Linked DNA regions of Homo sapiens. The protein of the gene in region 1 interacts with the protein of each later gene in a pairwise test. Each region holds a gene or a part of one and is shown on either strand. Other genes may lie near its edges. The genes, in order: TRPC4AP and TAB1.

The links.
Region 2: the proteins of TRPC4AP (region 1) and TAB1 interact in a two-hybrid assay, tested with the Homo sapiens proteins (one large-scale study listed by BioGRID and IntAct).

Annotation. Positions count from the first base shown.
Region 1 is NC_000020.11:35,009,204-35,013,013, reverse strand, and holds part of TRPC4AP (short transient receptor potential channel 4-associated protein), read left to right. Parts: coding exon 1-6; intron 7-2,725; coding exon 2,726-2,827; intron 2,828-3,810. UniProt on the Homo sapiens protein: Substrate-recognition component of a DCX (DDB1-CUL4-X-box) E3 ubiquitin-protein ligase complex required for cell cycle control.
Region 2 is NC_000022.11:39,416,780-39,420,589, reverse strand, and holds part of TAB1 (TGF-beta-activated kinase 1 and MAP3K7-binding protein 1), read right to left. Parts: intron 3,800-3,810; coding exon 3,713-3,799; intron 2,880-3,712; coding exon 2,741-2,879; intron 1,859-2,740; coding exon 1,745-1,858; intron 1,072-1,744; coding exon 960-1,071; intron 1-959. UniProt on the Homo sapiens protein: Key adapter protein that plays an essential role in JNK and NF-kappa-B activation and proinflammatory cytokines production in response to stimulation with TLRs and cytokines.

The DNA.
Region 1 (3,810 bases):
CCACGAGTAAGTACAAGAGTGTCCCTGCAAGGAGAGTTGTTGGGCTGTCTTCGGAAGGCCTCGATCTCCTTGTCTGGTCCCTGACCTCAGCTCGAGAGGAGGCCCTGGAGCTGGTGGAAGCCCACTGTCCCCTCAGTGTTAGCAGGTGTGACACTGCAGTCGGACCTCCCGTCTTTCCAGACTTCCTTATGGCAGGCACTGCCCCAAGCTTTCTTCTAACCCTCATAGCCACCCCAGGAACTGAGTATGGAAGTCGTTGGCCCCTTACTACCTTTGGAATCAATGGATTTCTCAACCTACTGCCCCTCTAAAGCAAGAGTGGACAGCGTGGCTATTCCCAGGGGCCGGCAGGAACTTCAGACAGGCAAAGCCGACTGCTTACTGAGCAGCTGGAGGATTCTTCCCTCCACAAGGAGGTGTGCTCCCATTTTTCTTGAAAGACATTCTGCGCTCATTTATTTTTTAACCTTCGATGGAGAATGTACAAGGAAAATTACTCTCTGCTGTAAGGAAAACAGTGCAGGAAGGGGGTGACTAGCAGCTGACCCTTGACCTTGGCATTGGGGAGGTGATGTGGGGACCTTAGTGAACAAGAATTTCAGTGAGCTCAGCTCCAGCCAGCTGCGTGTGCACAGGAAACTGGGCCCACTGTTGCATAACTTCTGATTTTTTCTGCCAAGCAAAGGCAGAAATTAAGATTTATGTGAAAGGTCCTGATTTTAAATGTTGGTTTAAATATTTTAAAAACCTTGCATTTGAGCTAACAGAACATGCCTGGAGACAGCTGTGGCCCCAGGGCACCTCCATCATATGCACCCATCCTCTGTGAGAGGTTTTCCGGCTGAAAGCCATAGAAGGGCTCCAGGAAGCATGTTAACCTTCTGAAAAATGGCACCACATATGTTATGGAACTGTGCTGTTTTCCCTGAGGAAGTGAGTCTCTGGCTTTCATCAGACTCTTCAGTCTGAGTACTCTGTGGGATATCAGGATGAATGCAAACAGCCATGGCCCCTGCTCTCATGAAGGGCAGAGTCTGAAAACAGAGACAGTTGTTCATCCAAGGATTCCACCGTTGAGCATTAGTGATAAGTGGAGATGGTATTCAGGAGGAGAGGAACGGGGTCTGTGAGAGACATTTGACAGGGTCCAGGACTGGCCAGAGGACACTCAGGAACTCTCCCCTGCAGAAGTGGCTTGCCAGCCAAGACCTGAAGTGTCAGCTTGTAGTGAATTGAGTGAACAGGCATGTGAGAGGGTGTGTGTTCTAGCCAGAAGCCCCTGAACGAGGGAAGACCATTGTGGCCAGCTGATGGGAGTGATGTGGGCTTGGCTCTGGGCTGGGCTGCACAGGACGTTGTGGGTCACAGTCACAGGGTGTTGTGGGTCACAGTCACAGGCCTGGATTTTATATACAGATGGTCCACTTAGAATTTTTCAACTTCACAATGGTACAGAAGTAGAATTTTGAATTTTGATCTTTTCCTGGGCTCATGATAAACAGTTCAATACTCTTGCAATGCTGGGCACTGAGCTGCAGCTGCAGCTCAGAATGTATTTCAAGAAAAATGGTGACCAGCTACACGATCACCAAGGTAGACAACCAGTACTCTGTGCTGTGCCTGCCGTGTTGCCAGTGATTATGGCCAACTGTAGGCTGAAGTCAGTGTTCTGAGCACATTCCAGGTAGGCTAGGCTAAGCTAGGAGGTTCAGTGGGTTAGATATATTAAATGTGTTTTCTTTCTTTTTCTTTTTTTCAAGACGGAATCTTGCTCTATTGCCCAGGCTGGAGTGCAGTGGCATGATCTTGGCTCACTGCAACCTCCACCTTCTGGGTTCAAGCAATTCTACCTCAGCCTCCTGAGTAGCTAGGATTATAGGCGTGTGCCACCACGCCCAGCTAATTTTTTATATTTTTAGTAGAGATGGGGTTTCGCCACGTTGGCCAGGCTGGTCTCGAACTCCTGACCTCGTGATCCACCCGCCTGGACCTTCCAAAGTGCTGGGATTACAGACGTGAACCACCGCGCCCGGCCTCAATATGTTTTCAACTTAACGGCATTTTCAAATACGATGGGTTTATCAGGACATAACCTCCTCCTAAGTCAGGAAATGTCTGTTCTAAATGCAGTGGGAAGCTGTGGAAGTGTTTTCACCGGGAGTGACAGGATCAGAGTCCTGATTCTGAAGATCACTTTTGGCACCGTGTGATGACTCAGTTCCTGTGGGATACCTTTTAGTAAAGGGAGCTGGTGTCCTGGGAACACAGGACCCAGCAGTGACAGGCCTGGATGGCAAGTCGGGGGAAGTGTCACAGTTAACCAGGCCTCTGTGTGATGTGTGACCGTGGTGCTTGGTGGGACTGCTGCAGCAGGGCCAGGCTTGAGTGTGATTGGACCTGTTGAGGTGTTGGTGCCTTTGAGAAAACAAGTGGAAATGTAGGCAAAGAGAAAGGCCCAGAGCTGCTGAGGGAAGGGGCCTTGTCGATGAATGTGGCAGGCAGGGGTCGGGGATGGGGGTGGGGCCAGGGAGAGATTCCACTGCCTGAGAGCCCAGAGTTCCCTCCTGCAGGTGCTGGCTGGAGTGAGAGGTGCTAGAGGAAAGTGCCTGGTGGCTTCTCAGATTCTGTCCACAGGAAGTGGGCAGGAGACTCCCTACACTAGCCTGGTGCTGACCCAGCAGCCCCAGTTCCTGTCCTTTACCTCCTCCAACCCATTTTGTTTCAGGAACAAGTACTTGTTACTCAACAACCAGGAGCTGAATGAACTCAGTGCCATCTCTCTCAAGGCCAACATCCCTGAGGTGGAAGCTGTCCTCAACACCGACAGGTGAGTGCAGGGGTGCAGCTTTTCCCTCAGCCCATCCCGGCTGCCCACGTTCCCCGGGGGCTCACCGGTGAGCACATCCAGGTATGCACGCGTGTCCTCTCTCACATGCAGCTACAGTGTCCTGAGGGCTCCTGTGTGCCAGGCATTGTATTCATGTCACCTGCATTTTCTCATTGGAGCCTCACAGCAGCCCTAGGAGGGGAGCCCCATCAGTACCTGCACTTGACAGATGAGGTGAGCCTCAGAGAGGTCACCTGCCAGAAGTCATGTGTGCTCCGCACTGCCCCACCGCCTTGTCTCGTGCATTCAGCCCCTTTGCTTATGTGCTCCTTTCTTGCCTGGTGGCATCTGCAGCCAAGCAGGACAGACAGAAGCCTCTTACCTGCTGCCAAGTGTTAGGTTGCATTACCTGGGTTAGGTTTGCCTCACCTGGAGCCAGGCAGTGGGGGGCTAGTCTCACAGGCGTCAGAATACAGTGGACTTTATCCAACAAGAGCCATGATTTCCCAACCTTTTTTGTTTGTTTGTTTTGTTTTGTTTTTTAGACACAAGGTCTTGCTCTTTCTCTCAGGCTGCAGAGCAGTGGTGTTATAGCTCACTGCAGCCACAAACTTCTGAGCTCAAGTGATTCTCCTGCCTCAGCCGCCCGAGTAGCTGGGACTACAGGTGTGCGCCACCATTCCCAGCTAGTGTTTTTACTTTTTTTTTGTAGAGATGGGGTCTCACTATGTTGCCCAGGCTGGTCTCGAACTCCTGGCCTCAAGTGAGCCTCCCAAAGTCCAGGGATTACAGGTGTGAACCACCTCTCCTGGCCTCCCAATCTTTTTTTTCTAAGGTAGCAGAACTCTTCATTCAAATAAAATTGTACCCAGTCCTGCCCTGATGTCTGCAGTGGATCACAGCAGAGCTGCTCTGTTTGAAGGGCCCAGACCCCTGCGTGCCTGGCCGTCTTCCTTCCCCCATGACGGGGCCAGAGTCATTTC
Region 2 (3,810 bases), on another chromosome or scaffold:
ACCCCACAAATTAGGGACAAATATTCGACACTCAGTTGCCTAGATCGCGTGAGGGCAAGGAGTTCTAACATGCACTTTCTAGGCCATGAGGCCTCTGTTGATGGGAACTCTGGCTTTGGGAACAGCCTTGGCCATGACATTAAATGCCATGATTGGCATCAGGCAAGTGGACGCGCCTATCTCCCCAACCAACACTTCACATACAGGTTACCTGACGGTTAAGGACACATATTCCAAATTCAGGCTGCCTGTGTTCAAGCCCCATGACCAGGGTGGGCTGCCTGATGTCTCCATGCCTCAGTTTCCTCTTATGAAAATGCCTCTGGGGTGATGGCAGTGACTGCCTCAGGGGGCCTGAGTAGGGAATGCATAAAAGAAGGTACATCCAGAGCTCTGCACGGGCTTGGCCGTGTGATGATGACTGCCCATTCTGCTGCCATGAGCGCTGGGGTGATGTCCAGAGGAGGTGTCCTCAGAGGGAAATACACAATTCATCTCACACCTCTGCTGCAGCCATGGGCAGCACCGACCAACAGGCCTGGTCTGTCCATCCCATGCCAACTCTGGCTTCGCCTGCCTCCCTTGTGGCACTAGTTGCTGCCCTCAGCTTTGGCCCAGCTCAACTCCACCCCTTGTTTCTACAGTACCCAACTCCTGGCCTGCTGGGCCTAACCTGCCCCAAACCAACCTCTCTGGGAGGAAGAAAGAGTTTGCCTGGGCTCTGAACTACTTTGACTGCACATGTGTCACTGGGGCCTACAGTCTGCGTCTGCCCCAGGCCTTCTGGACCTTTTTTTTTTTTTGAGACAGGGTCTTGCTCTGTTGCCCAGGCTGGAGTGCAGTGGCATGATCACGGCTCACTGCAGCCTCGACCTCCCAGCACAATCAATCCTCCCATCTTGGCCTCCCTAGGACCTTCTGTTCTTTCAAGCACAGGGGACAGCTGGGCTGGCACCTACCTGAGAAGGTCAATGTCCGTGTAGCCATATTTAACCTTGTAATCCCCGATCCGCCGGGTGCTCTCCTGCCCACAGATGATCCCCACCTGCTTGATCTTTCCAGCATCCAAGCCTACGGAGGGAAACAGTGCAACAATCCTGCTTCTTGTTCACAAAGAGGAACAAAAAGAAGGGGACAGAGACACAGTCATGGGAAGAAGGCAATAAGGACCCACTGAATAGGAAATGAAGACAACACCAGGGCACCTGGGAGAGCAGCTGACCCAAAGTCCCTGGTGTCCTCAGTCCCCACGCCCATCACGACACACCTCACTCAGAGCCCGTCCTCCAGGCACCACCTGGCACGGAGCAGCTTGCCTGCCGTCTCCCTGCCCATCCCGTGTGCCCCACATCTGCCTGGAGCTCACTGGGAAGGGAAGGAGCAGCTCAGCAGCAGCTGGGCTCCCTGGACTTCTTTGGCCTCTTTCAGTCTCCACCAATAACAGTAAGTGTCTTCTGTGTGCCAGGCACTCCAGGAAGCATTTCACATGCACTAACTGAATCCTCCTAGCATCCCGAGGTAGGTTACTATTATCCTCATTACACAGCGGGGGATCTGAGGCACAGAAAACTTAAGTTCCAATCACCAACCAGTAAGCGGCAGTGCTGGGAATGAACCCCAGGCAGGCTGGCTGGGGAGCCCAAGATCACAGCCCCTCTACCACACGCCTCTCTACCCCACCACCAAAGGCAGGCGAAGGGTGAGCCCATGGGGATCAGCTTCCGCTCCCACTCTCCCCACTCACCCAGCTGCGAAAGACGGAAGAGCTCATCCTCGTTCTCTGTGGTGTGGTCCACGTTCAGCTGTGTCACCTGCAACCCATCCACTGTCGATTTGCATAAAAGTGCACGGTTTGTACCTGTGGCAGAATGTGAACAGCTAAGCAAAGACTACACACAGAGAGAAATAGGGCATACCGGGAAGGCAGAGAGGGAAAAGGCAGGCATTTCACACATGGAAATACCTGAAATGGGCAAAACAGGCTCAGACCAACGGGGTGAGTCACCAGTTAGGGACAGCTGGTGATACGAAAGAATTGGGTTTAACTTTTTCAGTGTAATCATAGGATTATGATCTTAATAAAACAGACCTCTTCTCTAGAGATACAGACTGAAATATTTACAGATAACATGATACAGTGTCTGGCATTTGCTTCAAAATAGAGAACGTGGGGACAAAGAAGGCTGGCCACAGTTGATAACTGCTGGGATTGGGGATGGGCGCATGAATGTTCATTAAATATCAGTCACTCTATTGTTCTATATTGTGGAAAATTTTCCACTGGAGTATTAAAAAAAGGCAGCATCATCAGAAGGGTCTCTACAGAGTCCTTTCTACTGAAACCTGCACCTGTCTGGTCTTCTCACAAACCCCAATGTCCCTGTCACCTAGCCCCATCTCGCAGCTGTTCATGGGGATACTGGTTGGTTATTCATGGCCAGGTAACCTCTTCCAGAAGCAGCGGCCCCCAAGGCCACCCAGAATGGGATACGACTCGTCCAGAATGAGTTAAGAAGCAGAATAGGGACTAAAGGCCAGGACACCTGTCTCCCATCCCGTCCTTTCTCCCTTCCAGTTGGGACTGAGGCGTCACTGTGGAGAGGGACATACCCAACGGTCTCAGGAGACCCTGGGTTTAAAGTGCGTGAAGTGTCTGGAAAGCAGATTGTCAAATAATGCACCGACCCCTGTGGCTGACCTCTCCCCAGTCCTCCCTGCCCTGGGACAGGAGGGGGCTCACCGACATTGGCGACGTAGAGCTTGTTGTTGAGAAGGACCGCCACAACGGCCATGGCCCCTCCCGAAATTTCCCTCTCTAACGTCTTGAGTCTCTCAAGGATCTTCTGATACTGAGGAGGCAGCTGGTGCTGAGGGACTCCCTACAACCATCAACAGAGGGTCAGGGCAGGACAGAACTCTGGACCATCTTCCTAGCCCTCTCCACTCCCTTTACTCTTTTTTTTTTTTTTGAGATGGAGTCTCGCTGTGTCCCCCAGGCTACAGTGCAGTGGCATGATCTCGGCTCACTACAAGCTCCGCCTCCCAGGTTCACACCATTCTCCTGCTTCAGCCTCGAGAGTAGCTGGGACTACAAGGCGCCCACCACCACGCCCAGCTAATTTTTTGTATTTTTAGTAGAGACGGGGTTTCACCATGTTAGCCAGGATGGTCTTGATCTCCTGACCTTGTGATCCGCCCGCCTCGGCCTCCCAAGGTGCTGGGATTACAGGCGTGAGCCACCATGCCCGGCCTCCCTTTGCTCTTAAGAGCAAAGATCCGAGGGCCCGGGGGACAGACAGACAGATGGTCCATGGCACAGCCAAGATGAAGCCTTCGCTACAGCTCCAGGCTAAGGTTCTTCCAGAAAGCTGGAGATGACCGAACTCACAGCACAGAGGTAAGCGCTGCAGGTGGCAGTAGGCGATGTGAGCAGGTGGTTGACAAGGGCGGGGACCCATTCAGGACGAAGGACTGGGAAAAGCCCTTCCTCATGTCCACCACTGCCCAGACACTGCTGAGCTTTAGCATGCAGCTGCCCACAGCAGAGCAGCGAGGTCCCTCACCTGTGGCCACACACCAGTGTCACCCATCAGGAACTGCTCCCTAACGCCTGTTGCTCTGGCCCAGTAATGTCAAGAAAGTAGATGAGTCCATGCTCCTTGCAAAGCTGGGCCTGGACTTGACTCCCCTGGGTGTCGGCTGGGGAAATTACCTCTGGCAATTGCGACTGGAGGCTTGCCTTCTCAGCCAAGGCGTCGTCAATGGACTCCAGGAAGCTCCTCTCCACCACATCGAAGGCCTAGGGGGACA